Regions from separate parts of the Homo sapiens genome. Here region 2 is linked to region 1. The links come from fine-mapping of genetic effects on gene expression. A gene starts in region 1. The other region holds a variant in brackets. All regions are shown on one strand. Distances are between the middles of the regions.

Region 1 (15,333 bases):
CTCAGCGTGCAGCAAGCTGAGTGATGTGCACGCACAATTTCATTTAATCCACACGCCGCCCTACAGGGTGAGAACCATCAGCCCCCCCTTCACAGATGAGAAAGCTGAGGCCTGGGAACGGGGAAAGATGAGGCAGCACTGGGTGTAGCCTGGGCTAGGTCCGCATCTGACTTGGAGCAGACTCCCGAGCTGGTGTCAGACGTGGCCTCCATAATGCTCAGGCACCAGGCTCAGGGCAGGCGCATCCCACGGTTCTGTCCGGGCCAATCAGGCCATGCAGACGCAGCCTCCATAATGCTCAGGCATCGGGCTCAGGGCAGGCGCATCCCACGGTTCTGTCAGGGCCAATCAGGCCATGGTAGTTGTGCACAGCTCCCCTCACCACCACCTAGGCATCTCTCTCCAGGGTGACCCTGCCAGGAGCCCAGGAGGCAGCCCCAGGCCCACTGCACTGCCACTCAGTAAGTCTCTGGGGTCTCATTTCATTTCCTTTAAAGATATAATCATCGTCATCAGAGGGCGACAACACAACGTAACGTGATGTGTATGAAATGTAGCCCACGGTAAACACAAAAATACGCAACACAAAGTGTACCGTATACAGATGTAAGCAGAGGGTTACAAAACAGACTCCGTTTCTGCTGTGAATGGACTTTCCACTGATGTTGATAGCAATAAATTTTAAGAAAGAGACCTAAAACTTACCTCCAGACTAACCAAGGAGTTGCGCGAGAGATCCAAAGATTTCAGACCTGTTAAACTCATCAGAGAATGTCCCAGGTGGGTGATCTTCTCTTGGTAAGTTCCAGGAATAGACAATGACTGAAGCTCAGCTAAGAATAGAAAAATTGTAAGATTTTAATCTTTTATTTTGAAAACAATTATAATAACGGTCAAGTTCTTGGTGTTGGATATGGAGTAGAAACTGACACAGATTCTTGGTTTAATTCAACTTTACTCAGGCTCCTGAATCTTCTCCTCGGCCATCTGTGCCCTTCCTTGTAAAGTCCAGTTTAGTGCGGCCAAAACCCCCACCCTCAGTATCTGCTCAGGTTCCTCATCCCCAGATCCCATAGGTGGTGTCTGCTCACCCTGGCCTCTCTTTCGCAATAATCCTGTTCAGTTGGTTTAGCCCAAATCCCCTTACTCCTCATGTGTCCTCTCAGTCATTTTCCATCCACTGCCCCCACCCTGACCCTAGGCTATAAACTCCCCCCGGCCCCTGCTGTACTTGGAGTTGAGCTCCATCTCTCTCCCCCACTGCAAAATCCCAGCGCAGTGGCCCCAGGCCCACCTCAATGGTTCTGAATAAAGCCTTCCTCACTGTGCCTGACAAGGGTCATTCAAAACATTTCTTCCTCTAACAGTATATGTAAAAAGATTGAAAGACAAACTTTAACACATGTGTCCTATTGTGGAATAAATCCCTTTATTTTCCCTCTTACACATTTCTGTATTTTCAGCTTTTCTCAGAGAGATATGTATCCTCGTAATCTGAAAGAGGCACCTAGAACTCAGTGCAACTCCTTTGGAGTTGGAATATCAGCACTGACGAGCAAGGAACGTACCTGAAGTTTCGGCTTATGTTTATCTCTACAATACCTCCAAGCCCACACGCTTCTTCCCACCTTTACTGCCTCTCCCTCCAAAACCGTCTCTCCCCAGGAACACCCCTCTACTTCATCTCCCGCCTCCACTTCTGGCTGCTCAATTCTGTCACCCCTTGCAGCCATCACCATCTGAAACCCACTCGTCGGGTAACCTGTCTGCTGTCCTCCTGTTACAACTGTGGTCGGGCTGTGCAAGCTCCACGCACCCCATAAGCAGTCACTACATCAACATTAATTACAAGATGAAAGTTTCCGTAATCAAAAAGGCAGTTTAGATCCGAATACATCAATACTTTCCTGGGAACATTTATGTTTTAGAATATGTTTTGGTTTTTTTGTTTTTGTTTTCAGATGGAGTCTTACTCTGTTGCCCATGCTGGAGTACCGTGGTGCGATCTCGGCTCACTGCAACCTCCACCTCCTAGGTTCAAGTGATTCTCCCGCCTCAGTCTCCTGAGTAGCTGGGATTACAGGGACACGCCACCACATCCGGCTAAAACCCCACGTTTCCCTGTTTCCTCAGGTAGCCCTCAGGCATCGTCTCAGGTGCAGCTAAACAGCAGGATGCTGCCTGGTTTTGCCCCACTTGGAGGCACACAGACAAGCAGTTCATTGTCCCCCACACCCTGCCACCGGGACAGGGTCAGGAGGGGACAAGGTGCAGTGACCTTTGGCTCATGTTACTGAAAGAAAAGGGTTTCCGTGACAGTCTTGTGGTTTCCTGACCATGTTGGCCAGGCTGGTCTCGAACTCCTGACCTCAGGTGATCCATCCACCTCGGCCTCCCAAGACTACAGGCATGAGCCACCACACCCAACCAGAATATGTTCTGATTAAGTTTAAAATTTGGTTTGAGCTCTTCCAGTTCCAGGCAACATGGAGAGGACACATTTCAACCTGCTCCTCCCGCATATTAGACCCACTGCCCTGGAGGAAAATATACGGAACAAGCATTGGGGGACTGAAAGGAACAGAAGCCAACCAGCCAGGGGCCTCGGCACTCGAGAGAGAACCCAGCGCTGAGTCCCTGGCTTGACTCTGGGGTTTTGTTTATGCTTATTTACTACACATCCCACTCTGGGTGCCACAGAAGTCGGCAGCCCAGAAACACAAAAAGACCAAAAACCGTAAGCCTGCTCTCGATGGCCAAAGGACCAGGAGGGGCCTGGCAGGACAGACTCTCTGTACATCATCAGCCCTCCTGCAACCACACACACTGTTCACATCATCAGCCCTCCTGCAAGCAAACCCCCACCCACACACACAACAACACATACACACACGCACACACCCCTCGTCCACTTGGCACCAGGAGGGGCCTTGCAGGACAGACTCTCTTCACATCATCAGCCCTCCTGCAAGCAAACCCCCACTCGCGCGCACACACACACACACATACACACACACACACACACACCCCTCGTCCACCTGGCCTTGCGCAGCAGCCAGCACCGGGGTGTGAGAATGGATCCTGACTGCTGTCCCGGCCTGGCTAGAACGAGGTGGTGCCCTTCACTCTCCCAGCCAGTAGGGTCTGCCAGAGGCCGTGGGTGAGGCAGGAGCTCCATGACTGTCCCGGCAACAAGGTGGCACCCAGCAGGCTCGAGTGAGGAGTCTTCTCAAGTAAGGGGATTTAAACAGGAAGCAGAGTCTCATGACATCATACCCAGCATGTCCACAATATGATAAAAAATGACCAAGAACCAGAAAAATGGCAATTTGAATGAGAAAACACAGTCAATCAACAGATACCACCAAGAGAGAACACAGAACTTAGGTCTAACAAGGATTTTAAAGTGACTGTCATAAAAAATACTTCAATGAGCAATTACAAACACCTGAGACAAAGGAAAAACTAGTCTTAGCAAAGAAACAGGAGATATAAAGAAGAAACAAATAGAAATTTCAAAGAAAAATACAATAACAAAAAATCACAAGAGCAGTTTAATAGCAAAATGGAGATGACAGATGAAAACTGTAAAACCGTAGAGAAAAACTAAGAGAATCTGTCACAAGCAGACCTGCCCTAAGACAACTGCTGAAAAAATTTTTTCAAATATAAAGGAAAAACGAAAGAAACCTAGAGCATCGTGGAATGAAGAAAAAATAACAGAACAGATAAACATGCAGATAAATATGTTTCCTCCTGAGTTACTGAAAAGGCTAGGTATTTAAAAAAAATCATAATATTAATACGGTTCTCAAGGTATGCAGAGGAAATACTTAAGACAACTAAATTGTAAAGGGGAGAGGATAGAGACCTAAATGGTGATAAAGTTTCTATATTTCACTTAGAAGTAGTAAAATACCTGTACAAGTAAACTGTGTTGAATTACATAAATACATTGTAATTTGTATAGCCACCACTATGAAAACCATACAAGGAGATATACACCAAAACATAACAGATAAATCAAAATGAGATACTAAAAATATTCGAGTAAGTCACAGCAGGCAGGAAAAGGGAAACAGAAGAAAAAACACAGGAAACAATCAAAAAACAATAAAATGGCACACTTAAGTTCTAATATTTAACAATTAGATTAAATGTAAATGGCCTAAAACACTACTACAAGACAGAGATTAGCAGAGTGAATAAAAATAATGAACCAGGAAACTAATTTCAAATATAAAGATACAGGTAGGTTAAAAGTTCAAAGCAATGGATAGGAAAAGATACGCCATGCAAAAACCAATCAAAAGAAGCTACCGTAACAACAGTAATATCAAATAAGACAGATGTCTCAACAAAGAAAATTACCAGGAAAAAAGAGGAACAAGGCCCAGGCACCGTGGCTCACACTTGTAATCCCAGCACTTTGGGAGCCCAGCAGAGATCACCTGAGGTCAGGAGTTCGAGACTAGCCTGGCCAACATGGTGAAACCCCGTCTCTACTAAAAATACAAAAATTAGGCAGGCGTGATGGCAGGCGCCTGTAATCCCAGCTACTCGGGAAGCTGAAGCAGAGGAATCATGTGAACCCGGGAGGCAGAGGTTGCAGTGACCCAAGATCGTGCCACTGCACTCCAGCCTGGGGGACAAGAAGGAAACTCTGTCTCAAAAAAAAAAAAAAAAAAGAGGAAGACTACATATACTAAAAGGGTCAGTCCACTAAGAAGGTATAAAAATCCTAGCTATGTAATTCAACAAACAGAGCTTCAAAACATACAAAGTGAAAAAAAAAACAGACAAATCCACAATTACAGTTAAGGGTTCCAGACCCCTCTCTCAGTCATTAATAGAGTCACTAGACAGAAAATCAGCAAGGATACAGAAGAACTGAACAATATCACCAACCAACAGGATCTAATTGATATTTATGTATTTACATAACACTCCACTCAACAACAGAATACACACACACTCAAGTGCACCTGGAACATTCAACAACATAGACCAGATGCTGGATCATAAAACAAACCCTGACAAATTTAAAAGAATTAAAATCATACAGATTATGTTCTGGCCATAATGGAATCACACAGAAAAATAACAGGAAAATATCCACACATGGAACGTTAAAAACATACTCCTTAAAAATCCACAGGTCAGGCCGGGCGCGGTGGATCATGCCTGTAATCCCAGCACTTTGGGAGGCCGAGGTGGGCGGATCATGAGGTCAGGAGTTCCAGCTACTCGGGAGGCTGAGGCAGGAGAATGGCATGAACCCAGGAGGCAGAGCTTTCAATGAGCCAAGATTGCGTCACTGCACTCCAGCCTGGGTGACAGAGCGAGACTCCACCTCAAAAAAAAAAAAAAAAAAAAAATTCACAGGTCAAACAGGAAGTATCGAGGGAAATTCTTAAAATACGCTGAACTGGATGAAAATTAAAATACAACATAACAAAATTTGTGGATACAGCTAAAGCAGTGCTTACAGGGAAACTTGTGGCACTGTTTATAATAGAAAATAGGAAAGTCTCAAATCAATAATCTACAGTTTTGCCTCAAGGATTTAGAAAAGTATAAAATAAATGCAAAGCAAGCAGAAAGAAGGAAATAAAAAAAAGCAGAAATCAATGAAATTTGAAACTAGAAAAACACTGGAGAAAAATCAAACCCAAAGTCGGTTCTTTGAAACTATCAATAACATTCACAAGCCTCTAGCAAGACTAAAAAAGAAAGAATACACAGATTATCAACATCAGGAACAGAAAAGGGATATCCCTGTAAACCTTGTAGCACTAATCAGGGAAGAAGGGAGGACTCGGCATGTCCCGAGGTCAGCTGCCCTCTCACCTGCTTCCTCAGAGCCCTGTGGTGCCTACTGCCTCAGGATCACTTGGATTTTGTCACGAGGTTACAGTTCCCCTTAACCACTCTACAGATAATAACCTGGACATTATAAACCGTTAAGTTTTCCATTTGAGATATTCTTTCAGGACCTGGGGACTGATGCCAGCTGGTCTAAAGGGCCCCGCAAGCGGATTCACCAAAGAATGCAGTTTCCACACCCTGATAATTCCATGGCCCTTACCTCCACCAACTGACAACACCAATCTTCCAGCTCCTCACAGTCCTGTTCCTCTAAAACCCCCAGCTCAGGCTGGGTGTAGGTGGCTCATGCCTGTAATCCCAGCACTTTGGGAGGCCAAGGCAGGTGGATCACCTGAGATCAGGAGTTCAAGACCAGCCTGGCCAACATGGTGAAACCCCGTCTCTACTAAAAATATAAAAAATTAGCCGGGCATGGTGGCGCGTGCTTGTAATCCCAGCTACTCAGGAGGCTGAGTGAATCACTTGAACCTGGGAGGTGGAGGTTGCAGTGAGCTGAGATTGTGCCACTGCACTCCAACCTGGACGACAGAGTGAGACTCCGTCTAAAAAAAAAAAACCGCTCAGATCTCCTTGGGGAGATGGATTGAGGCCTCCTTCCACCTCCCTGCTGGGCCCCTGCCAGCCTTAAACTCTTTCTCTGCTGCAAACCCCACTGTCTCAGTGTATTGGCCTGTGGCCCCCACAGCACCTGACTGAACCTGTTGGTCCAGTAACACCTGCAGACCACACACAGACATTAACAGGCTAACAACAGAACACCAGAAACAACTCAACACACACACTCCACAAGTTAGCTCAAATAAGCCAATGCCACAAAACCCCACACAGCCAAGACTCGCGGTGAACTAATATGAACGGTTCTCTAACAACCAGAGATACAGAATTTGTCATTTAAAAGCTTCAAAAACAGAAATTGACATGTCCATATGGTTTCACTGGAAAATTCCAGGAAACATTCAAACAATGAGCACACACTCTACAGAACCTCTTCTAAATATAAGAGAAGGCAACACTTCTCAGCAGTTTATGAGCTCGGCTTCACCTTGACGCCAAAACCAGACAAAAATAAGCCAAAAAGAAGGAAACCGGCCACCAACATCCTCAAGAAGGCCGAGCGCAACAATCACCACAGAGTGGGCCCAGGAGAACCAGGGAGGTGATCCCCAGCGGGAGGGCGGGCTGCGCTCCTGGACAGCAAGGCCGGCTCCCTCTTCTCAGCGGATGTAACCCCCAGTCACGGAACCAGTGACCCGATAGACAGGCAGGGGCCGGGACGCCGGGACCCGAACGCGGGCAGGGGCCGCACCTGGGCACGGGGGGTGGGTCGCTCACCTGGACACGCGCGCCCCGCTCGCCCGCGACCGTTCCGGACGCCCGCGGCGCCTGCGTAGACGGGTCCCGCCTGCCCACGGTCCGCCGCCGCCCCGGGAAGCTCGGCACCCACCCCCCCGCCACCTCACGCTTGCACCCCCGCCCGCCCTCCGGCGCACCCAGGTCGCGGTGAGGCCCTAAGCCGCTCTTCGCCCGAACCGCCTCCTCGCTCAGCACCAGCCGAGGGCCAGCCCGCGCCATGTTTCAAACGGAGCCCTCGGACGGCGCCTGCGCGGCGGGCGGGGCGAGGCTACGAGAGGGGCGGGACCTGCGTCGGCAGAACCGAGAGCCTGGCGGGACGGGGCGGGGCCTGCGCGGCGGGGCGAGGGGCGTGGCTGGGGGAGGGGGCGGGACTGCGTGGGCGGAACCAAGAGCCTGGCGGGGGGTTCTCCTGAATGGCGGTTCTCCCAGGTACTGGCCACGCGACCCCAGCCCCCGCCCCAGATAGCTCCCTGTCAAGGCTTCCCTGGGCGCGGCCGCCTTCTAGGCCCCGGCCCTTGACACACGCGGTGTCCTCCCGGGGAAACCCCGAGTAGGCGCGGTGGAATCGCGGCTGGTGGTGGGCATGGGGACCCTGCCCCATCCACACTCCGCTCCCACCCTGAACCCAGCGCCCCCGGGGACCCCCGACTCACCTAGACTCCCCACCCAACCCGACCCCCCCGCGGGGACCCCTCCAGACACCCCAGCACCCGCCCGGAGCCTTGTCTGCTGCACCTCCCGTCCAGCCCCGGGCCTCCCAGAGGTGGGCGGGAGCTGAGCTTCTCCCCAGCCAGTCACTCCCCACGGCCGGTCCTTCTCCACCCCAGAACCTCCAGAGATGTCACAGGCCCAGCACTGTGGCTCGTGGCTGACCGCGCCCTGGAGGGTCTCGCTGTGTTTATCCTTGTGAGGTCCTTCTACAGAGCTTTCAAGGAAGACAGAGTTCAGCCTGTTTATTGGGAAGACTTTAATCCTGCTCAAGACATCTACTGTGTCACCGTACCACTGTGGCCCAGCGCCTGGTGGAGTGAATCCAGACCCCCAGGGGTGTCCCCTCCCCGCCTTTCTCCTGGTGTCTAGGGGCACCCAGAAACCCTCACCCCAGATTAGACCAGCTCGTTGGCAACATCCCTGGTATGTCACAGCCTGGGGGGTGATAGACAAGGCAGGGTAGTGGTGGGGGGTACGTATGGTGGTAGTAGACGAGGGTATACACAGACAGAGGGTGTACATGGGGAATGTGTGCAGGGGCTGTGTGCAGGGAGTGTGTGTGGATGGTGTAGGGGAGTGTGTAGGGGAGTGTGTAGGGGGTGTGTGCAGAGGTTGTACACGGGGTGTGCAGGAGGTGTACTCAGAATGTGTTCAGGGAGTGTGTGCAGAAGGTGTACATGGGGTGTATGCAGGAGGAGTGTGCAGAGGGTGTACATGTAGGGGGTGTGTGCAGACAGTATACAGAAGGGGTGTGTGCAGAGGATGCACACAGGGTCTCTGCAGGGAGTATGTGCAGTGCTGTACATAAGGAGTATGCAGGGGGTATATACAGGGTGTATGTGCAAGGGGTGTGTGCAACAGTGTGTGCAGGAGGTGTGTGCAGGGTCTATGTGTGGGGGTGTGTGCAACAGTGTGTGCAGGAGGTGTGTGCAGGAGGTGTGTGCAGGAGCTATGTGTGGGGGTGTGTGCAACAGTATGTGCAGAGGTGTGTGTAGGGGCTATGTGTGGGGGTGTGTGCAACAGTGTGTGCAGGAGGTGTGTGCAGGAGGTGTGTGCAACAGTGTGCAGGGGGTGTACACAAGGTGTGTGCAGGAGGTGTGTGTAGATGTGTGTGCAGGAGGTATACACAGGGTTTGTGCAGAGGATGTGTGTGGGAGGTGTGTGCAGGGGATCTGTGCAGGGAGTGTACACAGGCTGTGTGCAGAGGCTATGTGCAGGGGGTGTGTGCAACAGTGTGCAGGGAGTGTACACAAGGTGTGTGCAGGAGGTGTGTGCAGAGGTGTGTGCAGGAGGTATACATGGTGTGTGAAGGTATGTGTAGAGGTGTGTGCAGGGGGTATACACAGGGTTTGTGCAGAGGATGTGTGAGGGAGTTGTGTGCAGGGGATCTGTGCAGGGAGTGTACACAGGCTGTGTGCAGGGGGTATGTGCAACAGTGTGCAGGGGGGGTGTGTGCAGAGGTGTGTGCAGGGGGTGTACACAGAGGGTGGTGGCAGGCGGTGGATGCAAGGCTGCATCTGTTCAGCCCAAGACGTTCCATTGGTCCAGTGGTGTTAGAGCACATTTGGTCAGGTTGCCTTCATGGGATATTTGACAAGCTGCAAACCCGAGGGCATGCTGGTGCCCGAGGGCGCCTCCGTGCTGACCTCAGCATGTGCAGCAAGAGCCAGGGCACAGGGGCGGCCTGGCCCATTTCAGGCAGGTGCTCTGTGGGAGGGTGGCTGTCTCCACTGACAACCCAGGGAGGTCAGCAAGGAGGAGCCCTGAGGTGGACTCGAAAGCTGTGGGAGCTGATGGCCCTCCTGGTCTCTGCCACAGCCCTTAGGCTGTGGGACACACAGCGTCACATTTGATCACTGTTCATGGGGCCTGCCGAACACTCAGCATTCCTGAGTGCAGATCGTCACGTAACTTTCCAAAAATTGCAAACCCAGATATGGCTCCATGACCCCTCCTGCAAGACTGTGAAGGAGTTCAGGGCACAGCTGAGCCCTCACACCCCCAGCCCCATCACTGCCCCTGATATGCACTGAGTGGAATTCTGTCCCGCCAGGAGACAAACAGTGGACAGCATCCTGGCTCTTCAGAAGCACATGACGATGGCAAACTGAAGGCCTCATGGGCCCTCACCCAACAGCAGTGGCTTTTCAGGGCATAACACAGGCCCCAAACACTGAGCCTCTTCCTCCTGGGCAGGTACCCAGCTGGCCAGACAGGGCAGGGTAGGGGCGAGTGGGACCTCAGTGGGCAGCCGGTCCAGGACAGAACCACACGGGGATGTGATGGAAGTACCAATGGGAACTTTGAAAACAATGCCTCTGCTCACCAAAGTATCCCAGCTTCACTGTAGAAAATATAGACACTACAGAAGGGCACCGAGATTCGATATGCCGCCCTGCTGAGATAACCCACACTAACATGCCCACATGTATCCTGCAGGTGTTTTTCAAGCCTGTGCGTATTGACAGTCATGAGGCTATGCTAAGCATTGCCGGATGCATCTGCCACTAAGTAGTCTTTAACGTTGTTTATTAAACACTTTTAATGGTCACGTTAGATCATAAACCAAACCCAACTTTATTATCCTGTCTTCTGCTGCTGAAAGTTGTGTCTGTCTCCACTTCCTCACGGTGCTCACTCTGGTTGGCCAAATCATGAAGATCCATGGAGGCGCGGGAGCCTTCCGGCCTGGAATGGGGCAGCAAAAGCACAGAGCCGCAGAGAAGCCGGGAAAGCAAAGGCAGGGGCTGCTGGGCTGGGCCCCATCAGCCCCATGGCAGCGGCACCCGCACAGGCCTGGGGTCCCCAGCAGCAGGGATGCTGTCTGTGGGCCCAGGGCTCCTCCACAGCTTTGGGGGCTTCCTGCCAGAGGAGGGGGGTGGTTCTCCTGGGAGGGGCCCCAAGACAGGAGTCCCCAGACCTGGGCACGCCTCACCTCGGGTAGGGCCCCAACGCTTCAGCGGGTCTCACTGGCATCCCTAAACCTAGACCACAGGAGAGTGTGCTGTGCCATCATCACGATGACCCCTCCCCATCCCAGCGCACGCTCCCACGACGCACCGTGCTCACAGTGACCCCTCCCCATCCCAGCGCACGCTCCCACAATGTGCCGGGATCACAGTGACCCCATGGGCTACCTGCCGCTCCCAAGGACTAATGGAGGCCTCTGTCCCCAGGTTCTATCCCGGGTTCCTCACAGGGCACCAGCCCTCAGGCCCAGTTAAATTCCGGAGCGGCTCTTTAAGCCCACAGGCCCAGGCCGCTATGGTAGGACCCAGGTGGGAGAGGCTCTCCGTGTGCTGTCTCCCTGACAGGTGCCCCATCCATAGCTTTCTAGAACATCCCAGGGAGGCTCCCAGGCCCCGAGCCTCAATCCTCAAGCCTGTGGGTCCCAGACTGCAGGCTCAGTGAGCCCTACAGAGACCAGGCCAGCGGAAGGAAACAGGGAGACCCACATGGTCAGAGAAGAGGGCTGGAGGTTCAGCCTGAGGGGCCTCTGGGCTTTCTCTAAACAGAGCGGGGGTGGGAGGAGGCTGTGATGTACAGTGAGGGGACTTGAGAGGGAAATGGGGGCCTCCACCCACCCCAGGGACGAGCGCTCACCCCAGGCCCACCTGGCTCGCAGCATCCAAGCCAGGGCTACGCAGAGCAGCTGCTCCCAAACCCAGCTCCCTCTGGGTGCCTGAGCCAGGCTCAGAGATGCATCCTGCATCGTTCTTTCTCCATCCTGTGTCAACAAGACAACACAGGCAACCAGCGTGGCCATGCTGGAAATCCACAGCCTAGCGGAGCGGCCTCGCCTGCATTCATGTGGCCAGTGGAATTCGCGGCACACACATTCGCACTGTCACGCTCAGTTCACGTGTGCACACGCTCACAGCCACAGCACACTCACAGTTCACACACCTCACACGCATACATACACAGGTGTACGTGCACATGCACACTCACGTACACACCCACCCACACACAGTCTCACACCCAGGTTCACACCCACACATGGACCTCAATCCACCGGTACCTGCCACACACCCACACGCGGACCTCCATCCCACTCCAAGGCCTTTCCCCACATCCCCGGGCGGCAGGAGCCCAGCGGTCAGTGCAGAGGCATGGACGAGGGCCAGGGAGGCAGGTGGCACGAGCCACCTGCTCTCCACATCCTTCTCGAGAGGAAAGGAGGTGCCGGCCCACCCTGCCCACAGCTCCTCGGCGAAGCCGCGTCTGGTCCAGGGCCAGCCGCCCCTTTGCTGGTTTCAGTTCCTCCTTTATCCATTCATAAACGTTGAACAAAAGCGCTCTTTTCCCTCACGGTATCTCTAGCAGTTAAGATCAACACCAATATTTGAGAACTGTCAATACTGCATTTTACCCACTTCCCAAATGTGAAACCGGAAGGCACACGTAGCCCTTGCTGGGCTGTTTCCAGTGAACACAGTTGAGGGTGGGCTTGGGGGTTCTCCGCATCGTAATGTCTTAGGAGGGGGTGGGGCCACACCTTCCCACCTTGTCCGAGTAACAGGCCACGTGTGCGGTTTAGTTCACACCGTGGAGGAGGGGAGTGTGAGGGCAGCGGGTGGGCCGCTGTGTCCTGGTCTCTGTCCTGCTGTGTGGCCAGGGAGGGAGTGCGGCTGTCCGATTTAGGTTGAAACACCGTCCATCGGCATCTCTGGGGGATGTTGCCACTGCCCTTGACTCCTGCCCTTGTGTCTGGAAAGGGGAGGCTTCAGAGTGAGTGGCCCACAGCCTTCCAGTTGCAGGAGCTGGTGTGGGAAGGGGCATCCCCATGGCTGTGGGCCGGAGCCCTGTAATAATGGGAAGTTTCAGTGCCCTCATAGGAGTTTCACTGGAGCAGGTAAATCGGTCTGGGAGCTTGTGAACCGCTCTGGGCTGCTGGGGCTGCACTGACAACAAGCACAGAGCCCAGCTACAAGTGGCGTGGCTGCAGGAGACGCCCTGGAGACCTGAGACAGGCTGGGTGTCTCTGCTGTCCCAGGACAGAACCCAGCTACAAGTGGCGTGGCTGCAGGAGACACCCAGGAGCCCCCAGGCAGGGTGGGCGGCTCTGCTATCCCAGGACTGGGTCAGGACAGCTCAGCCCTCGCAGTCCTCAGCCAAGTGCTGCCCCGCTCTGCAAGGGGCCCAGAGGGCTCCCAGAGGCCTGCGGACCAGTGCTAGGCCTCACATCCCTGAACCACTCCCTGACCTCACATCCCTGAACACATGCAGGGGCCGGGCCTCAGCTGGGGGGCATGGCACTGGGTGAGGTCAGAGGTGCTCCAAGCATGTGGCCTAGAAGGTTTGTCCAAAACAAATTCTCTCCTGGACCCTGGAGGGGAAGCAGAAGCCGGCTGCTTCCTATAGTTCCCAACACCAGAAAGCCCAGGACTTCTCAGGGAAATCTTGGTTTCCAGCTTTTTCCGAAAGTGCCTGATGGGCAGGCATTCACTCCTTTCAGACAAGCCCCCCAGCCCTTCAGCCACTGAGCCGTGACCCTCTCCCCAGGAAGGACTGGTGGGGCTGGGGCACTGCCACCACCTGGAGCCCCATCTTCAGCCGCCTGGCAGGAGCTGCACCTGCACATGGCACCCGTGAACTCCGGCATCTTCCTCTGTCCTCCCAGGCACTCGGCATCTTCCAGGGCTGCTGCCTCCTGAGCCCACTCGATATGGTTTAGATGTTTGTCCCCACAGATCTCATGTTGAAATGTAATCACCAGTGCTGGAGGTGGGGGCTGGTAGGAGGTGTTTGGATCACAGGAGTGGGTCCTTCCTGAATGGCGTGGGTCATCCTGTTGGTGATAAGTGAGTTCTCACTCTGGTAGATCTGGTAGTTTAAAAGTGTGTGGTGGCTGGGCGCAGTGGCTCACACCTGTAATCCCAGCACTTTGGGTGACTGAGGAGGGTGGATCACTTGAGGTCAGGAGTTCAAGACCAGCCTGGCCAACATGGTGAAACCCTGTCTCTACTAAAAACACAAAAATAATTAGCTGGGTGTGGTGGTGCGCACCTGTTATCCCAGCTGCTTGGGAGGCTGAGGCAGGAGAATTGCTTGAACCTGGGAGACAGAGGTTGCAGTGAGCTGAGATTACGCCACTGCACTCCAGCCTGGGCGACAGAGTGAGACTCCATCTCAATTAAAAAAAAAAAAAGTGTGAGGCGCCTCCCCCTTCTGACTTGCCCCCCTCTCACAGCCCCCCTCTCACAATGTGAGGTGCCTCCCCCTCTGACTTGCCCCTCTCTCACAGCCCGCCTCTCACAATGTGAGGCGCCTCCCCCCTCTGGCTTGCTCTCCTCTCACAATGTGAAGCGCCTCCCCCCTCTGACTTGCTCTCCTCTCACAATGTGAGGCACCTCCCCCCTCTGGCTTGCTCTCCTCTCACAATGTGAGGCGCCTCCCCGCTCTGGCTTGCTCTCCTCTCACAATGTGAGGCGCCTCCCCCCTCTGGCTTGCTCTCCTCTCACAATGTGAGGCGCCTCCCCCCTCTGGCTTGCTCTCCTCTCACAATGTGAGGCGCCTCCCCCTCTGACTTGCTCTCCTCTCACAATGTGAGGTGCCTCCTCCCTCTGACTTGCTCTCCTCTCACAATGTGAGGTGCCTCCTCCCTCTGACTTGCCCCCCTCTTAAAGTGTCATGTATCTGCTCCCCCTTTACCTTCCACCACAACTGGAAGCTTCCTGAGGCCTCATCAGAAGCAGATCCTGGCACTACACTTCATGTACGGCCTACAAAACCATGAGCCAATTAACCCTCTTTTCTTTATAAATTACCCAGTCTCAGGTTTTCTTTATAGCAATGCAAGAACAGCCTAGTACACCACCTCTGCCTCTCTTTCCGCCATCTGCTGTTAAAAGCAGGCTGATCAGGACCAGGGGCCAGCATCAGATATAACCTGGCATCCCCTGCAAAGTCCCAGGCTTCCCCCACTATGGCTTGGGGACCTGCAGCTGCTTGCTCCTCATCTCTGAGGCTTCGGGGAGCCCAGAGCTCAGAGTCCCTTAGGGCCAGGGCAGAGTGTGGCCTGGGGGCCACCAGCCTCAGGAAGCCCAAGGCCTCCTCCAAGCAGGAGTTCTCTCAGAGCCAGAGCTGCCCCACCCCATATGGCCCAGTGACCATCACTCAAAGCTCACCTTCTCCTTGAGCCTCTGGTCAGCCGACCAGCCCTGACTGCTCCCGGGCCCCTGGCCCCTGGCCACGTCCCCCCTCCTGCCCCTGCACCCCATGCTGACCAAGCTCCACCGCCTCAACCCCGCAGGATCCAGCACTGCTCTCCACTGCCGCTGGGTGCATTCCGTCGGGCAAAGCTTTGTTGCATGAGGCCGGGGCTCAGCATCACAGCCTCTCTGTCGGTTCCTGCAGGCAGTGGACATGGTGGGTCCC
Region 2 (15,333 bases), 52 kb before region 1:
GTCTGTGGCTGAGGGTTCAGGAGCTTGTGGCCTCACAGTCAAGGCCTGTGGCTCCTGTACCCTGCAGGCCGGGCAGCACCAGCAATCCCCAGAGCACTGTGCGGCGACAGGCACCCGTCTCCTGCGCTTGGCCAGTGGTGGGCGTGGCCTTGGCTGTCCACTTTGCCCCATGAGCCTGACCAGGCAACACAGGTCATTTGAGAAGGTGATCTCCAAACAAACAGCCAGAAACTGACTTCAGGTGCACAGACCAAAGCCCTGCCCAGGCCGAGACTGGGGTGGATGGAGGCAGCCGAGCCCCTGGGGCCCCCTAGAGAAGGTCGGGCCCCTCAGATCTGCCCGGGGTCCCTCTGGGCCCCAAGTCCACGTCCCACCAAGGGCCACCTCTTCCTAGTGATGTCCACAGGGCGGTGACTACACACGCCCCACCCCCGCCCCTCCCCAGGAAAACGAAAAGGCCGGCAGCAACGCAAAATTAATTAGCAGCAAGCGCAGGGTGTGCGCCCAGAGGGAGACAGTGCGCTGATCCCAGGCGGCCCCTCAGGCAGGGGGGAGCCTTCGGTAGCCAGACCTCCGGAGCTCAGGCAGCCCCCCGACCGGCTGTGTGGGGGCTTCATGGTGGGTGTGCCTGGGGTTAGAGCTGGTGCAGCAATGGGAGGGCCCTGGCCCTCAGCCCGCCCTGGGGCCTGAGCTGCCGTGGCCCAGTGGACGTTGCCATCCATCCTCTGAGCCAAGTAGGGTGCAGGAAGGGCTCCGGTTTCCTGAGATGAGGGGAGAAGCCCTCTCAGGTGGCCAGACATCACCTCACCTGCCCCCAGGTGCTCAGCTGCTGGTGGAGTCACTTATGAGGGGAGAATAGGCAGGGCCTGGAGGGCTTGCCACCGACCTCTGTCGGCCCCGGGAAACGTTGCTCTAGGTCCTCTGTATCTTGCTGGGGCTTGCGGGAGGCAGGGGCGGCCAACAGGCATGGGGAACCCCAAGGCTGGGTCCTGCTGGAACGGGACCACTGGACCCTCCTGGAGCAGTGAGAACTCGGAGCGACGTGCAGGATGGCGATGCCAGACAGGGCTCCCCTAAGGCCGCGTCCCTACCAGGTAGGAACCTCCCCAGAAGCTCCCCCTCCCCCCGTGGGGCCCAGCAGCCAGGGAGTCCTTCCCAGCCTCCTCAGGTCTCAGGGGCTAATGGAAGATCCCAGAGGTTGGTGCCCTGGGGGAGCCGCAGCCCCTCTCTCTCAGACTCGCCTAAGTACAGGGAGAGGCTGTTTCCCCAGAGATTCCCCTCCACAGCCCCCAGCTTCCCACCTGTGGCAGCCTCTGGACAGGGCACTCCAGCCACAGCAGCTGCAGGCCCAGAGAGCCCAGGGGAGCTGGTAGCTGTCACCTCGCCCGCCGGCCCCCGCCCCTCAGAGAGGGCACCATGGGAGGGCATTCCTGATTCACAAGGGTGCTGGATGCACAGTCCCGAGCCCAGCGGGGCCTGTGACGTCCGCCCCGGAGGAACAGGCCTCAGTCCTCGGAGGGCTGTCCTGGCCTGAGCCCAGCTCCTGGAGGCCCCAGGCCGGGTCCCAGTGTCCCTGAGAGACTGAACCAGGCCCAGAGGCCAGGGGACTCAGAGCCTGGGAAGCAAGTCCAGGCCCCGCAGGGCATCGTGTATGAGCAGCGGCTGCGTCCTGCTGGGCCGGCTTTGGGGCAGGGCGCCGGGCTGGGGAGAGCATGGGCAATGAGGATGCCGAGCTCCACACTCGGAGGCTCCTCCAGCACCCTGGTCTCTGGAGGACAGGCCCACTCTATGTCAGGAGAGCCGGGCAGCCAGACTGAGTGTCTCTGGGGAAGAGGCAGGCACCGCTGTCCTAGAACTCCTGAGGACTGCCCCAGGCGGGGGGCACCCGGGTCTCCTGGGGAGAGCTCCCCGCCCGTGTGGGGCAGAGACCCGGGCGCCCTTTCCCCGAGACACTCGGGGAGCGCGCAGAGCAGGTGTCCGGATCTGAATGTCGCCTCTGATGGGGGAGCCCCTCAGCCATCCCCCTCCCGCCGAGTGACTCATGCTGGTGGTGCCTGGCTCCGAGGCCGTCAGAAAGGGCTGCGTGCCTCAGCACTGGTCACCAGGCTGGCAGTCAGGCCTGGCGTCCGCATGTCAGCTTGGGCAGGGTGGGAATAGAAGACAGGAGAGCCTTTGACGGCCCAGGACAGACAGAGGCCCCAAGGGCCCCAGAGAGTCAACACCCCCACAGGGCCCAATGGGCACTGTCAGTTCCAGGCACTGTGGGCTGCCTGGGGTGGCCTGGCTCTTCTAGCACCACAGGGAACGTGCGGGTGTCCACGCCGAGCGCGTCAAGGGGCTAAATCCACCCCCAACACCGCGGACCCCCACGCCACAGAGCTGCCCAGGGCACCTCCGGCTCACCGGGCTCACCAGCGCCCCCTGGGGGATGCTGCTGGACAACAGCGCCCTATGGCCGGCGGGTCTGGAATGTGCCCTGCGTGGCTGCCCTCAGCAGTCCAGGCCCCGCCCTGGGGCTCTGTCTCCCCAAAGCCCCCTCCGGACACAGCGAGGCCTCCGCTCCCCTCCCTGGGACCCCATGAGGCGTGAGGGTCTGAGCTGTGGGACCCCGAGCACTTGGTGTGTTTCTCAGCGCGATTTCTTCTTTGGCTCAGCGCTGTTGATGGTGTCTGTTGTGTCTTTAGGACACGCGTGTAAAGTGTATGGGAACCCTCAGGTGCTGTTTAAACACAGCATCCGCCTTGGGGTCTGGGAATCACCCAGCGGCACCTCCGTGCCTGGCTCCAAGCCTGGCCACTTGGCACCCACCGCGTTGGGTGCGTATCCTGGGCTTGTTCTCGAGGGGTGGGGGTGCTGTCCACGTGCGCACACATCACAGCACTGTGGTCTGGCCGCTGCTGAAGGGCACTGGATTGTTTGGGGTTTGGTGACTACGAGCAGAACAGTGGTAAACATTTGCGTTTATGTGTGAGCCTCTGTTTTCATTTCTCTTGAGCAAGGACCCAGGAACGGGACTGCTGGGCCACCTTTGGCTGTGATGAGAAGCTGTCCACAGTGGCTCTGCCGCGTTGCTCGGCCGGGTGTGGACGAGGCCCCCACCCCGCGGCCTGCTCAGCTCGAGGTGCCGGCAGTTTATTTGATTGTCTGAGCCCCCTGGAGAGTGTGCAGGGGCCTCGCTGTGGTTTCCATCTGCACTTCCCTGACGGCGCCCACGCGGCCCCCTCTCCGTGTGCTTGTCCGCACTTCCCTGACGGCGCCCACGCGGCCCCCTCTCTGTGTGCTTGTCGGTACTTCCCTGACGAGGCCCACGCGGACCCCTCTCCAGTGTGCTTGTCCGCACTTCCCTGACGGCGCCCACACGGCCCCCTCTCTGTGTGCTTGTCGGTACTTCCCTGACGGCGCCCACGCGGACCCCTCTCCGTGTGCTTGTCCGCACTTCCCTGACGGCGCCCACACGGCCCCCTCTCTGTGTGCTTGTCGGTACTTCCCTGACGGCGCCCACGCGGACCCCTCTCCGTGTGCTTGTCGGTACTTCCCTGACGGGGCCCACGCGGACCCCTCTCCGTGTGCTTGTCGGTACTTCCCTGATGGGGCCCACGCGGACCCCTCTCCAGTGTGCTTGTCGGTACTTCCCTGACGGCGCCCACACGGCCCCCTCTCTGTGTGCTTGTCGGTACTTCCCTGACGGCGCCCACACGGCCCCCTCTCTGTGTGCTTGTCCGCACTTCCCTGACGGCGCCCACACGGCCCCCTCTCTGTGTGCTTGTCGGTACTTCCCTGACGGCGCCCACACGGCCCCCTCTCTGTGTGCTTGTCGGTACTTCCCTGACGGCGCCCACGCGGACCCCTCTCCGTGTGCTTGTCTGTACTTCCCTGATGGGGCCCACGCGGACCCCTCTCCGTGTGCTTGTCTGCATGCACGTGTCTTCTCTGGTGGTGTCTGCTTCAAATATTCTGCCCGTCTTTTCACATGGATTTTTTTTCTTACTGCTGAGTTTTAAGGTTCCTTTGTGTATCTCAGAGACAAGTCCTTTCTCAGGCATGTCTCCTAGTCTGTGGCTTGTCTTCTCATTCCCTTAACGGTGTCTTCTGAGAGCAGAGTTTCGAACGTTTTGATGAAGTCTAGTTCATCCATTTTTTCCACTATAGGCCATGTTTTGTTGCCATTTCTAAGAAATCTTCGCCTAACCCCAGGTCACAGAGATCTTCTCTTTGGTGTTCTTCTAGAAGTTTTAGTTTCATAATTAGGACCGTCATCTATTTTGAGTTAGTTTTGTATATAGTGTGCAGTATAGACCAAAGTGCATTTTAATTTGCACAGGGATCACCAGTTGCTCCAGCTCCACTTGTGGAAGAAACAGTCCTTTCTCTCTGGCTTGCCTCTGCACCTGTAGACATCGGGGGGGCAGCATGCATGTGGCTGAGCCAGACTCCCCCTGGGCTGCGGGGCTGGCCGCGTGCCCGTGCCCACGTCGCTGCCACTTTGCAGTCAAGCCTCGATGAGCTTTGGAGTTGGGTAGTCAGTCTTCTGACTCTGTTCTCATTTCTTGAAATCGTTTTGGCTATTCTAGGCCCTCTGCTCACTGACTTCTGGAAAGGCTTGCTGGGGTTTTATGGGTCATTTGTCCCCTGACTCTTGGTCACTGTGGATTCTGCAGCTGGGAGTGCCCTCGGAATGCTTGGCCTGCTGGGTGCAGCCTTTCTCGCGCTGTCCAGAGGCTTCCCTGGTGAAATGCAGGTGCCTTTTGCAGAGCTGAGCCTCATCCACAGGATCTCTTGTTTTAAACACTGAAAAACCCCACTTTGGGTTAGTTGTGGTAGATCTGGTCAGAGGAGAAAAATGTTTTCTAATTAGAATTATTATATAAAAACCAAGAGTCAGTTTAGAACCCTCTAAAATTGCCTGAATGGCCTGTGGTGGGAGGATGTTGTAAGGCGTGGACTGTGTTTAGATGTGGCGTGTTGTGTGACCAGAAGCTTCTCATGGCACCTCCGGCCCACCGGGCTCTGCACCTCTGAGGCCAGAGCAGTGCAAGGGCACAGCGGGGCCGCCTGGCGGGTTTTGGAGCCAGGGCATCTGAGGCGTGGGCCTGCGCCCATGCTGCCAAGTGTCCGGGGGCGGCAGCCCCTCCTAACCATGTTCCTGTGTGGGGGACACCTCCACCTAGGACCCCAACACACACAGGCAGAGCCGGGGCCCCAGCAGGTCCTAGGACCCCCAGCTCCCGGCGCAGCTGGGCGGGGCTGTGGTGGCCCCGGGAGGAGGAGGTGGGCTCCGCTGCCTAATGGCCTCCGGCACTGCCCCAGCAGAGTGCAGACCCGCACACACCCTGTGTCAGAGCGGCCTGCAGGGCCGTGTGAGCATCCAGCTTTATAGAGGACCTGCTTCCGCCAAGCTTTCTTCCAAGACAGTTTGGATTTGCAGTGCTACCAGGGCGGCCGCCTGTGGGTGAAGCCTGTGGGCTGCTGGGCCATGGCTGTCCAGCTCTGCTCAGACCCACGCGTGGGGAGGGCAGCCCTGGGCCGGCCCGCGCCCAGCCCTAAGTCGCCTGTGCCCCTGTAGAGGGAAGTCTTGCCGGACCATCACCTTTGAGCAGTTCCAGGAGGCGCTGGAGGAGCTCGCCAAGAAGCGATTCAAAGACAAGAGCAGCGAGGAGGCCGTTCGCGAGGTGCACAGGCTCATCGAGGGCAAGGCGCCCATCATCTCAGGGGTGACGGTGAGCAGGGCGGGGATGGAAGGCGGGGCCTGGAGGGGGTGGGGGCGGGGCCTGGAAGGTGGGTGGTGCCTGGGGGAGGGGTGGTCAGGAGGGACATGGATTGGGGGCGTGACCTGGGGGGGGTCCTGGGAGGCGTGGTCAGGAGGGCGTGGCCTGGTGTGGGGTCTGAGGAGGTGTGGTCAGAAGGGGCATGAATGGGGCATAGCCTGGAGGGTGAGGCCTGGGGAGGCGTGGTCAGGAAGGGCATGGACTGGGAGTTGGCCTGGGAGGGGGTGGGTGGGTCCTGGGAGGCATGGCCAGGTCGGCGTGGCCTGGGGGGGTCCTGGGGAGGCTTGGTCTGAAGGGGCATGGATTGGGGGGGCATAGCCTGGAGGGTGGGGCCTGGCTGTTCTGACAGCCCCTTCCCTCTGAGGGTGCAGGTGGTGGGGTCCCCAACTACATAAACACCAGGTGGACCTGGGCAATTGTTAGGGTTGTGGCACCCCGCAGGCCCAAGGCTGCCCCAGGGTCAGGAGAGGTAAAAATAAGAATTAAAAGGGGCATAAATCCCAGGGTTTATGCCCCTTGCCCAGTGCCCCACCGCTGGGAGACCTGCCCAGGGCACAGCCATTTCACTTGCTGGCCTCACCTGGCTCGCAACTCACCTGCCCCCTTCCTCCTGCTCCTCTTGCAGAAAGCCATCTCGTCGCCCACAGTGTCGAGGCTCACGGACACCACCAAGTTCACGGGCTCCCACAAGGAGCGCTTCGACCCCTCTGGCAAGGGCAAGGGCAAGGCTGGCCGCGTGGATCTGGTGGACGAGTCAGGCTATGTGTCCGGCTACAAGCACGCAGGCACCTACGACCAGAAGGTGCAAGGGGGCAAGTAGCCCCCGCTCCATGCCTCGCGGCACTGCCGGTGTCCCCAGAGCAGGGACTCTGTCACCTCGCACTTCATTACATTCCTGTACTAACTGGGGCAGAACTCAGACGGGTGCCCCAGAGGGGGCTGGGGGGCGGCCAGGCCCAGGCCTCCCTCCTGCCCCTCCTCCTACCGGATGCCCCCAGCACTCCCCTCTCAAACCAGGTTTGGGCCCCAGTTCGCTGACCCTCCTAATACACCTGCCTCGTCCTCAGCCATTTCCAAAGTGTCTCGCGGATCACACCACACTGGGCACGTGGTTTGCAGGTCAAAGGGGCGTTTTAAAGCAGCTGGCTGTCATGGCAACAGGAGGCTGTGCTGACCTCCTGAGCGGCAGACACCTTCCAGGAGCCCTGAGGGTGGCAGGAGCTAACCCCAACCAGCAGGCAACTAACACGGAATTGGCCCCACACCGGACGTGGGAGGTGTCTGTGGGGCCCGAGGCCTGTCCTGTGTGCAGCGGACACCACGGGGCCTTCCTGCTTTCCTGGGCAGAGGGCAGAGTGAGGCCACCTGGCGGGGGTGCTGGGCGCCTGGCACATGTGTGGGGAAGCCGGTCACATGGACACACCTGTGCACACATGCCTACAGGCCAGCTCTGTGCCAAGGGCAACCTAGGTAAAACGAAAGCCGTCAGGGGCAGTGGGCGGCTTCCCGGCTGACCACAGTGGCTTGGACTGTGAGGGTAGAGTAGGCTCGCTTTGCTTTCCTGAGAAGATGCGGTGGCTGCCTATGTTCTCAGAGCGGGTCTGGGAAGATTCAGAATGTCCGGTCCCTGTGGTGTTGCCAGGCAAGAGACACGAAGTGCCGAGACACTCCTCGCCTCACCGCGTGACAGAGCCTCTGCCCGGCCCTCCCGTTCGCCCGTCCTCACTAGCTGCACCCTGTTTGCTCGCAGACCTCCCATTGCCACAGCCCAAGCACCTTCTTCAACTCTCCCAAAATGGCTCAGCCTAACCTCTCCTGGCCAATCCCCCCCGCCGGAGAGCAGGACACTAGGGAGGACCCCCAGTCCTGCAGTGTCTGTGGGGGTTTCTCTGCCAGCAGGGGGCTGAGCAGAGCCCATCCAGGACACTCCACACTGCCAGGACACACCCAGGCGGCCCGCCCTTGCCTGTCTGCACCTGGGGAGAAGCCGGCGCTCCTGCTCCCTCCTGGGGAGGCTGACGGGTGTGGCCACCCGCTGTCACAATGGCACACTGCCACTGTCCCTTGGCACGCACACAGCCACAGCCACACGTGTGACCTGCTGGGCCGTGGTTCTGGAGTCTACCTGCGGATGAGCCTGCGGCAGTCCTGGGGAAACTTTTCCAGAGCCTGTTAGCCCGTGGCTACGGTCAGGCTCTGGCCAGGGCAGAGGGCTGCCCAGGGCCAGGCTCACAGTACAGGAGGGTGGCGAGGCCCCTCCCTCACTGGCACGCATGAGCACCACCCGCCTCCCCGACTCCCAAGAGTGCACCTGCTGCGGCCACAGCTCCGTGGAAGGACTCCCCCTACCTGAGCAGAGCAGAAGCCCCAGGGCGGAGCTCCCAGCCAGCATGGTCCGCTGAGGGCTGGGGGGCGGTCTCCGAGGCCCCTCAACAGAGAAGCCTCCACCTGAGGATGGGGAGGACCTGGCAGGCAGCTTCCACGGCAGGGCTGGGAAGTTCAGTGCCTGGAAATAAAGAGCAAGGAAAAATGGACCTCAGGCTTCGTGGCTCCTTTAGGATGTCACCTCACCGGCCTGGGGAAGGCGGGGGGTGCCCAAGCCCAGCCCTGTGCCCCCGCTGAACCTGGCTGGACCGCGTGTGAAAGGCAGAACTAACGTGCGGAAACATTTGAAAACAACTCTGAATGTGCGGTTCGGAATCACCCGATCACAGACGAGCGGTCACCGGAATCGCCCGGTCACAGACGAGCAGTCATCGGACTCACCCGATCACAGACGAGCGGTCACCGGAATCGCCCGATCACAGACGAGCGGCCACCGGAATCGCCCAATCACAGACAAGCAGTCATCGGAATCACCCGATCACAGACGAGCAGTCATCGGACTCACCCGATCACAGACGAGCGGTCACCAGACTCGCCCGATCACAGACGAGCAGTCATCGGAATCACCCGATCACAGACGAGCAGTCATCGGACTCACCCGATCACAGACGAGCGGTCACCAGAATCGCCCGATCACAGACGAGCAGTCATCGGAATCACCCGATCACAGACGAGTGGCCACCGGAATCACCCGATAACAGCCCATCACAACTCCAAAGCCCTTGTGTTGAAAAGGCCGAGGACG[A/G]GTGGTCACCAAACAGGGTGGCTCCCCAGGTCCCGAAGCCTGAGACCCGGAAGGCCCTGGCACCCTTACACCCTCGGACTCCTGCCCTCCTCGGCCTCCCTGGCCCCAGCGCGGCTCCACCCTGGGCTGCGTCTCCTGGTCACAGGCTGCGTTTCTCCTTTCTGTCCGTGGGCAGCCCAGTCCCCACAGTCACGGCCAAGCCACGCAGAACGAACATGACTCCAGAGGACCTCGCCCTGGAGCTGAGCCTGGCGCCGGGTCAGGACGGAGGGAAGGGCGGGTTGGGGTCCGCGGGTCCTCACACCGCACGGCAGGCACAGAGGCTCGCCAGGCCCTGATCCGGTCTGTGGGGACGAGGGACACTGAGGAGAGGTGCTGGGCACCAGGACGCTGCCTCCTGGTCCCTGGTTGGCCTCAGACAAGCACGGCCTCGAGAAAAGAGCCAAGCGCATCGGGAGCACACCAGAAACCGGCCCTGAGCACGAGAAGAGCCTCCGCCCGGCCCGGGCACCACCCGACCTCGCAGGGAGCAGGCCCTGTCACCGACGGGTCACCTCGCCCACACGGCCAGCACCGACTCACCACAGCCCTTCCCAGACCTGGCTGGAGTGGCCGGAGCGGCGGGGCTCATGGCTCCCATCTTGGCCCCTGGAGGTGAGCTCATTCACAGAAGTGGTCCCTTCACTCTGAGAGAGAAAATCGTGGCGTGCATCCCAAACCCTAGGCCACGCCTGTGGGTTTCGTGAATGAGATCGAGGCTGCTGTGGCACCCTGCCCGTCCTGGCCTGGAGCACCCTGGGATCCTGGAGGGAGAGGCCCCACGCCCCCACTCTCCCTCCACACTTCCAGGGTTGGTGCCCACGAGTTAGAGGCACGCCCTCCCCCAGCGGCCCTCAGGCTTTTCTCAGACATGCGGGAGCCAGGAGAGCACCCTTCTCCACTCAGCTCCAAAGCGAATCTTTGAAAACACCCACTCGGCTCCCATCTCTGTCACCTAGCCAGGAGGGGTAGCAAAAATAAAGTCACGAGGACATAGTGGTCACCACTGTCAGTTACAACTTGTCTGTGGAATCCGTAATTGCATCTGTGTGCCGCCTCCGAACACAGAACATTGTTTGGACGGCAGCCCCACTGCACATAACAGACCCGTGCATCTTCCTCAGTCAGTTTCTGAATATTGTGAATTCAGGCAGGTGTGTGTTCTCTTCTGCATGTTTTTATGCACTGCCAATTAGCTTCTACTAACCACGGTTCAACAGAAAATAAATGTGTATTTGTGAATAACAAACTGCACAACCTGCAAACCAGGAGAGAGGGACAGGTTCTGTCAGGGGTGACACCAGGACACAGGGACAGGTTCTGTCGGGGGTGACACCAGGACACAGGGACAGGTTCTGTCATGGGTGACACGAGGACACAGGGACAGGTTCTATCATGGGTGACACCAGGAGAGAGGGACAGGTTCTGTTGGGGGTGACAAGAGGAGACAGGGACAGGTTCTGTCGGGGGTGACACCAGGAGAGAGGGACAGGTTCTGTCAGGGGTGACACCAGGAGAGAGGGACAGGTTCTGTTGGGGGTGACACCAGGACACAGGAATAGGTTCTGTCGGGAGGACAGTGCTGATCGTGTCTCAGCATCAGGAAAGGAGAAAGGCAGAGGGAGAGCGCTGAGAAGACTGTTCACGCCAGAGTGCTTATTTATTTTTAATTTACTGCTATAGGATAAGCAACCAGGTAGTGTTCCTAACAATTAGCGTTACCAAAATTAAAGTTCAAATTATATGTTTAAAATATTGTAGAAGATATATATTTATACTGGACTACTTTTACACCTTCTAATATCCTGTCCAAGTTTGGGCGCAGATGGTGGAGTTGGGCTGGCATCATGTCCTGTGGCCGCCCCACTTGCCTGTTGGTGCCACTCCATCCCGGGCCCCAGGGATGCCAGCTCAGGGCTGACCACAGCAGCCCTGCGTGGGCATCACCTCCTACCCCAGCCCCCATCCTGGGCTGCTGCGGCCGCCTGCTTTTGTGAATGGTGTTTTGTTGGCACAGGGCCTGTCCTGTGTTTTCACACAGGCCTGTGGCTCCTGCTGTACAAGTGGAGTGGGGAGGAGTTGAGATGGAGATGCCTTGGCCCTGGACACTTACCTGTCCCTCTACTGGCCCAGCTCATCTCCTCCTGTGGGCAATCACGCGTGCACTGGCCACCCTCCCACCCCACAGCACACACCACGAGGGGATGGCACAGGGGGAAGATGAGGCTGGACCGTGATGTTATCAATAGGCTAGAACGTCCTTCAAACACTGAACCTGCATCTTTCCTCCTCTTACTACTGAACACTTTGTGAGCTCTGGTGGTCCAGGGTGCAGCGTTTGTCCCTGGGCATGTGATGGGGAGTCCTGGGCACATCGAGATGCTTTACTTCTTTCTTTCGACCTCTTAAAAAACTAAACCAAGCCAAACCACAAAGGAAATCTGCACAACTTAAGAGAAACTTGAAAGGGATCGTGTAACTACTAGTTTGTACTAAGTTTTTTTCAAGAAAGGGAAACAAATTTATATATATATATATATATATATATGTGCAATATATTTTTACACTGTGTGATTAACATTAGGGAGTACTGAGTGCATCACTTTATCAGTGTGACGGGTGATGTCCACGTCATGGCTGTTCTGACTCTGAAAGCCACTTCTGCTGATGTCTAAACCGCACTCACCGCGGACGTCCGCGGGGTGGGGTGGCCCTGCTGTTCCTCCTGCAGGTGAGAGGTGTGGTGTTGCCTGTTGGACTTGCTGTTGAGCCTGGCTTGCAAACCTGTAGTGAAACAGCTCGTGTCTGTGTGCACACTGCTCCTGTGTCTGCTGTCGTTAACATTGTGTGTCAAGTTGGTAAAGTGACAAATAAAGGTGTTAAAACATGGATTTCTCTGTTCCTCAGAGCACACGTGTCTGTAACAGGTGATAACAGGGGATAGGTACTGGAGGGGCCCCAGGTGGGGAGTGTGCTGAGTGCCTCCACTGGGCTGAAGCTCACAGGGCCAAGGCCCTTGTGTCGCCTTTTCCCGAGGGAGTCTCTCGCTTCCTCATCTAGACAGGAGGACCGTGAAGGAGGAGCAGGCGGACCAGCCATCTGTCAGGTGTGAGTCCTGCTCTAGCACTGGTGTAGCCCTGGGTGGGGTCTAGATTCAAGGGGAATGGACATGAACACTGTGAACACCACCAGAGCCCCCAAAACAGGACAATGTCATCACAGGCTGCTATAAAAAAAATGCCAACCTGAGATACTAGCCCAGCGAAACAGTTTTCCAAAATGAGGATACAATAAAGGCATTTTTGGACAATGAAAAGAGAATTTGCCACCAGCAGACATTTAAAGAAATTCTAAATGCAGAAAGCAAAGGTGATCTCAAATGGCATGTCTGGTTTGTGAAGAAAGTGGAGCAAAGAGAATAAATAGGTCAATAACTCCAAATTAACAGTGGCTATATCAATACTTTGTGAGATTAAAATGTTTCATAAAAATACTTGGGAACCCCCACAGGTGAGCAGAACAGGAGCATGGAGAGGGACGCGCGCCTCGCGCTCCAGGAACCAACCCCAGAGGTGGGTGAGAGCATGGACTAAACGCACACATGCCATAAGCATGGGACAGAAGCAGAGTACAGTCTCCAAACGAGCAGAGGGACATGCGGGATGACAGGAGATCATCCAAAAGTGGCAAAAGTGAAGAGGGAAAAAACCATGAATAGAACAAACAGCACAAAATGAGATGGCAGATTTAAACTAATGAGATGGTGGATCAATCAGCTTCGCTGAGGCCGGGCGCGGTGGCTCACACCTGTAGTCCCAGCACTTTGGGAGGCCGAGGCGGGCAGATCACAAGGTCAGGAGATTGAGACCATCCTGGCTAACACAGTGAAACCCTGTCTCTGCTAAAAATACAAAAAATTAGCCAGGCGTGGTGGCGGGCGCCTGTAGTCCCAGCTACTCGGGAGGCTGAGGCAGGAGAATGGCGTGAACCCGGGAGGCGGAGCTTGCAGTGAGCCGAGATCACGCCACTGCACTCCAGCCTGGGCAATAGAGCGAGACTCCATCTCAAAAAAAAAAAAAAAAAAAAAAAAAAAAAAAAAAAAAAAAATCAGCTTTGCTGATAAAACAAGAGAAAGAAACACAGAACAGGGAAATTGATAAAATAATATTTTAACCCATATTTATTTGTAATTTCAGCATGGCTAATGATAGATCAGATCAGAAATTGAAAAGAAAATGGAGGCAAAGGGTGTTTCTTTGAAAGGACTGAAGAGAAAGTTCAAATAACGAATATGAAGAATGGCCAAGAATGGGCTGAGTCCCCGGGAGGCAGATGCTGAGGTGGCCTTTGTATCACAAGAGGCTCACTGGTGAGGAATGCCCCTGAACAGCAGCAAGGGGAGGAGGCCGGGAGGCCTCAGGGAGGCTCTGGAGATGACCTGCTAGGGAGCTCCCTGTGGTTCGCATTAGGCCCAGGCCCTGCCTGCTTGGACACTGGCTGCAGCTGCCTGGATGAGTGTGTCCTCAGCTCCAGAGCCCAGGCACAGCCTGACAGCATGGTGGCTGGAGATGGTCTCTACCCCTGTACTCCCTGCCCCTGGATGGCAAGGTCTCGCTTGAAGGGACACAACTGTCCCTACATCTCTGCCACAGGGACACACACAACTTCAAATGTTGAAGCCATTCAAATTATGTGTGTTATACCCCCCAAAATGGAAAATTAAGACAATATGGACCAATTCTTAGAGACACATAACTTACAAAAACTAACTCGAAAAGAAATGGAAAGCCTGCTCAGCCCTGTGACTTAGGGGAAGTCACTGCCAGCTACAAAAGAAAACCCCTAACACTTCAGTGGCTGGACACACAAAATGTATTACTCACACAACGTCCAACTTCAGGAATAACAAGAGATCTCTTCTAACAGAAGACAAACAGACTTCCTAATCCTGTGATGCAGCTGCCCAGGTCACTGGCAGGGAAGCTATCACAGTGACGCACCAGCTCCCGCTGCTCTGGCCCTGAAATGACTCACCTCAGTCCCACACACAGGCTGTTGCTCAGTAGTCACACGGCCCCAGCCCAACTCAGGGATATGCAGCGTAAAGGCAGGGGGGACATAAGGATGGTCTGTGTGAACGGTTCTGCCACATCCTGGAACACTGAGTTATACTGGATCAGTAGTCAAACCTCCTGACAAAGAAAGTTCCAGGCACAAGTGACTTCACCAGCAAGTTCCATCAAACATCCATGGAAGAAATAATTATAATCTTAAGTAAATTCTCCTAGAGAATGGAGAAAGAATACACAACCTAGCTCATTTTACGGTGGTGTAAAGATGCGAATCCTTTCAAGAACAGCATTACAAAGGAAAATCGTAAGTGGCTGTCACCCGTGAAGAGAGATACTAACCACTGTACTAGAGCACGCAGCTACCCAGTGCTCAGGACGCACCAGATGCTGCCCGAGAGTCTTATTCATACTAACTCATTTCACCTTCACAACAATCCTGTGAGGAAGCCACTATTTCCCCATTGTACAGACGAGGAAATCAGGGCCCAAACACAGGTGCTAGGTAGTATAGCTGGGCCACAAAATGCTAAACAAAATATTAACAAACCAAATATAACAATATGTATGTAAAAGAAAATCCATAATTATTAAGTTGGACTTATCTCAGAAATTCAAGGTTTATTTTTAACAAAAGCAAATTATGGTCGTTAAACACATCAATATATTAAATGATAAAAATCATGGTCATCTCCATCACTGCAGAAAAAGTGATAAAAGTCATCCATTCTTGAGGCGAATTATTGATAGAAGAAGCTTTAAAACAAGCAAAAAAAATCCATTACAAGTGAGTGGATAAATGGTGAGAATTTATCACCCCTTTGAATATCAGGAAGAAGACAACGATGCCCACTCTGTTACCACCTCTAATCAGCACTGCACTAGGGGTTCCGACCAGTGTAGAAAAGCAAAAAACAAAACAAAAATAAAAACATAAAGTAAAAATCCAGAACAACAGGAATGGGAAAGAAAACCCATTACTCATAGAAAACATGACTGTGTGCCTAAAAATGAGGAAACAGCTACAGGCAAATGATTAAAATTACTAGACTGCCGGATACAAATTAATACACAAAAATGAATTTCCATGAAATGGCAACACATAATTAGGAAAATGAAATCCAAGCACATTTTTAAAAACAGCATCGCAAAATAACAAGGACCTAGGATTAAATGTAACAAAAGACATACAAGACCACTGTGAAAAGTATCAGGCTGTATGAACACCCGCTGAAGGAGCCCTAACATTTGGAGAGACAGATACCATGTTCAGAGCTTGTAAAACCCAGTACTGCAAGTACGTCAATGATTCCCAAGTTGATCTACAGGT

Evidence for each region. PIP is the estimated chance that this variant, and not a neighbour inherited with it, causes the effect.
Region 2: its variant is fine-mapped to the expression of CEP72 in whole blood (TOPMed, PIP above 0.99). The same link has a PIP of 0.9 or more in testis.

What each region holds. Positions count from the first base shown.
Region 1 is chr5:604,490-619,822 of GRCh38, reverse strand. It overlaps CEP72 (centrosomal protein 72), which reads right to left and starts at 7,483. Exons shown (of 12, transcript NM_018140.4): 1 at 7,380-7,483; 2 at 706-833. The coding sequence starts at 7,461. It overlaps CEP72-DT (CEP72 divergent transcript), which reads left to right and starts at 7,613. Exons shown (of 3, transcript NR_103444.1): 1 at 7,613-7,671; 2 at 8,070-8,376. LOC105374608 (a long non-coding RNA gene) reads right to left here. Exons shown (of 8, transcript XR_007058672.1): 4 at 15,183-15,333; 5 at 14,608-14,678; 6 at 13,963-14,010; 7 at 13,530-13,744; 8 at 12,213-12,758. RefSeq lists enhancers at 48-1,247, 6,700-7,629, 7,630-8,560.
Region 2 is chr5:656,354-671,686 of GRCh38, reverse strand. TPPP (tubulin polymerization promoting protein) reads left to right here. Exons shown (of 4, transcript NM_007030.3): 3 at 5,564-5,717; 4 at 6,391-11,825. The coding sequence ends at 6,585. It also overlaps a transcript of CEP72 not described here. Among named protein-coding and RNA genes, the nearest start is that of TPPP, 29 kb to the left of the region's middle. RefSeq lists enhancers at 1-61, 424-593, 6,047-6,216, 7,634-7,803, 9,105-9,274 and 1 more. The variant A/G (reference allele first, on the strand shown) is at 8,896.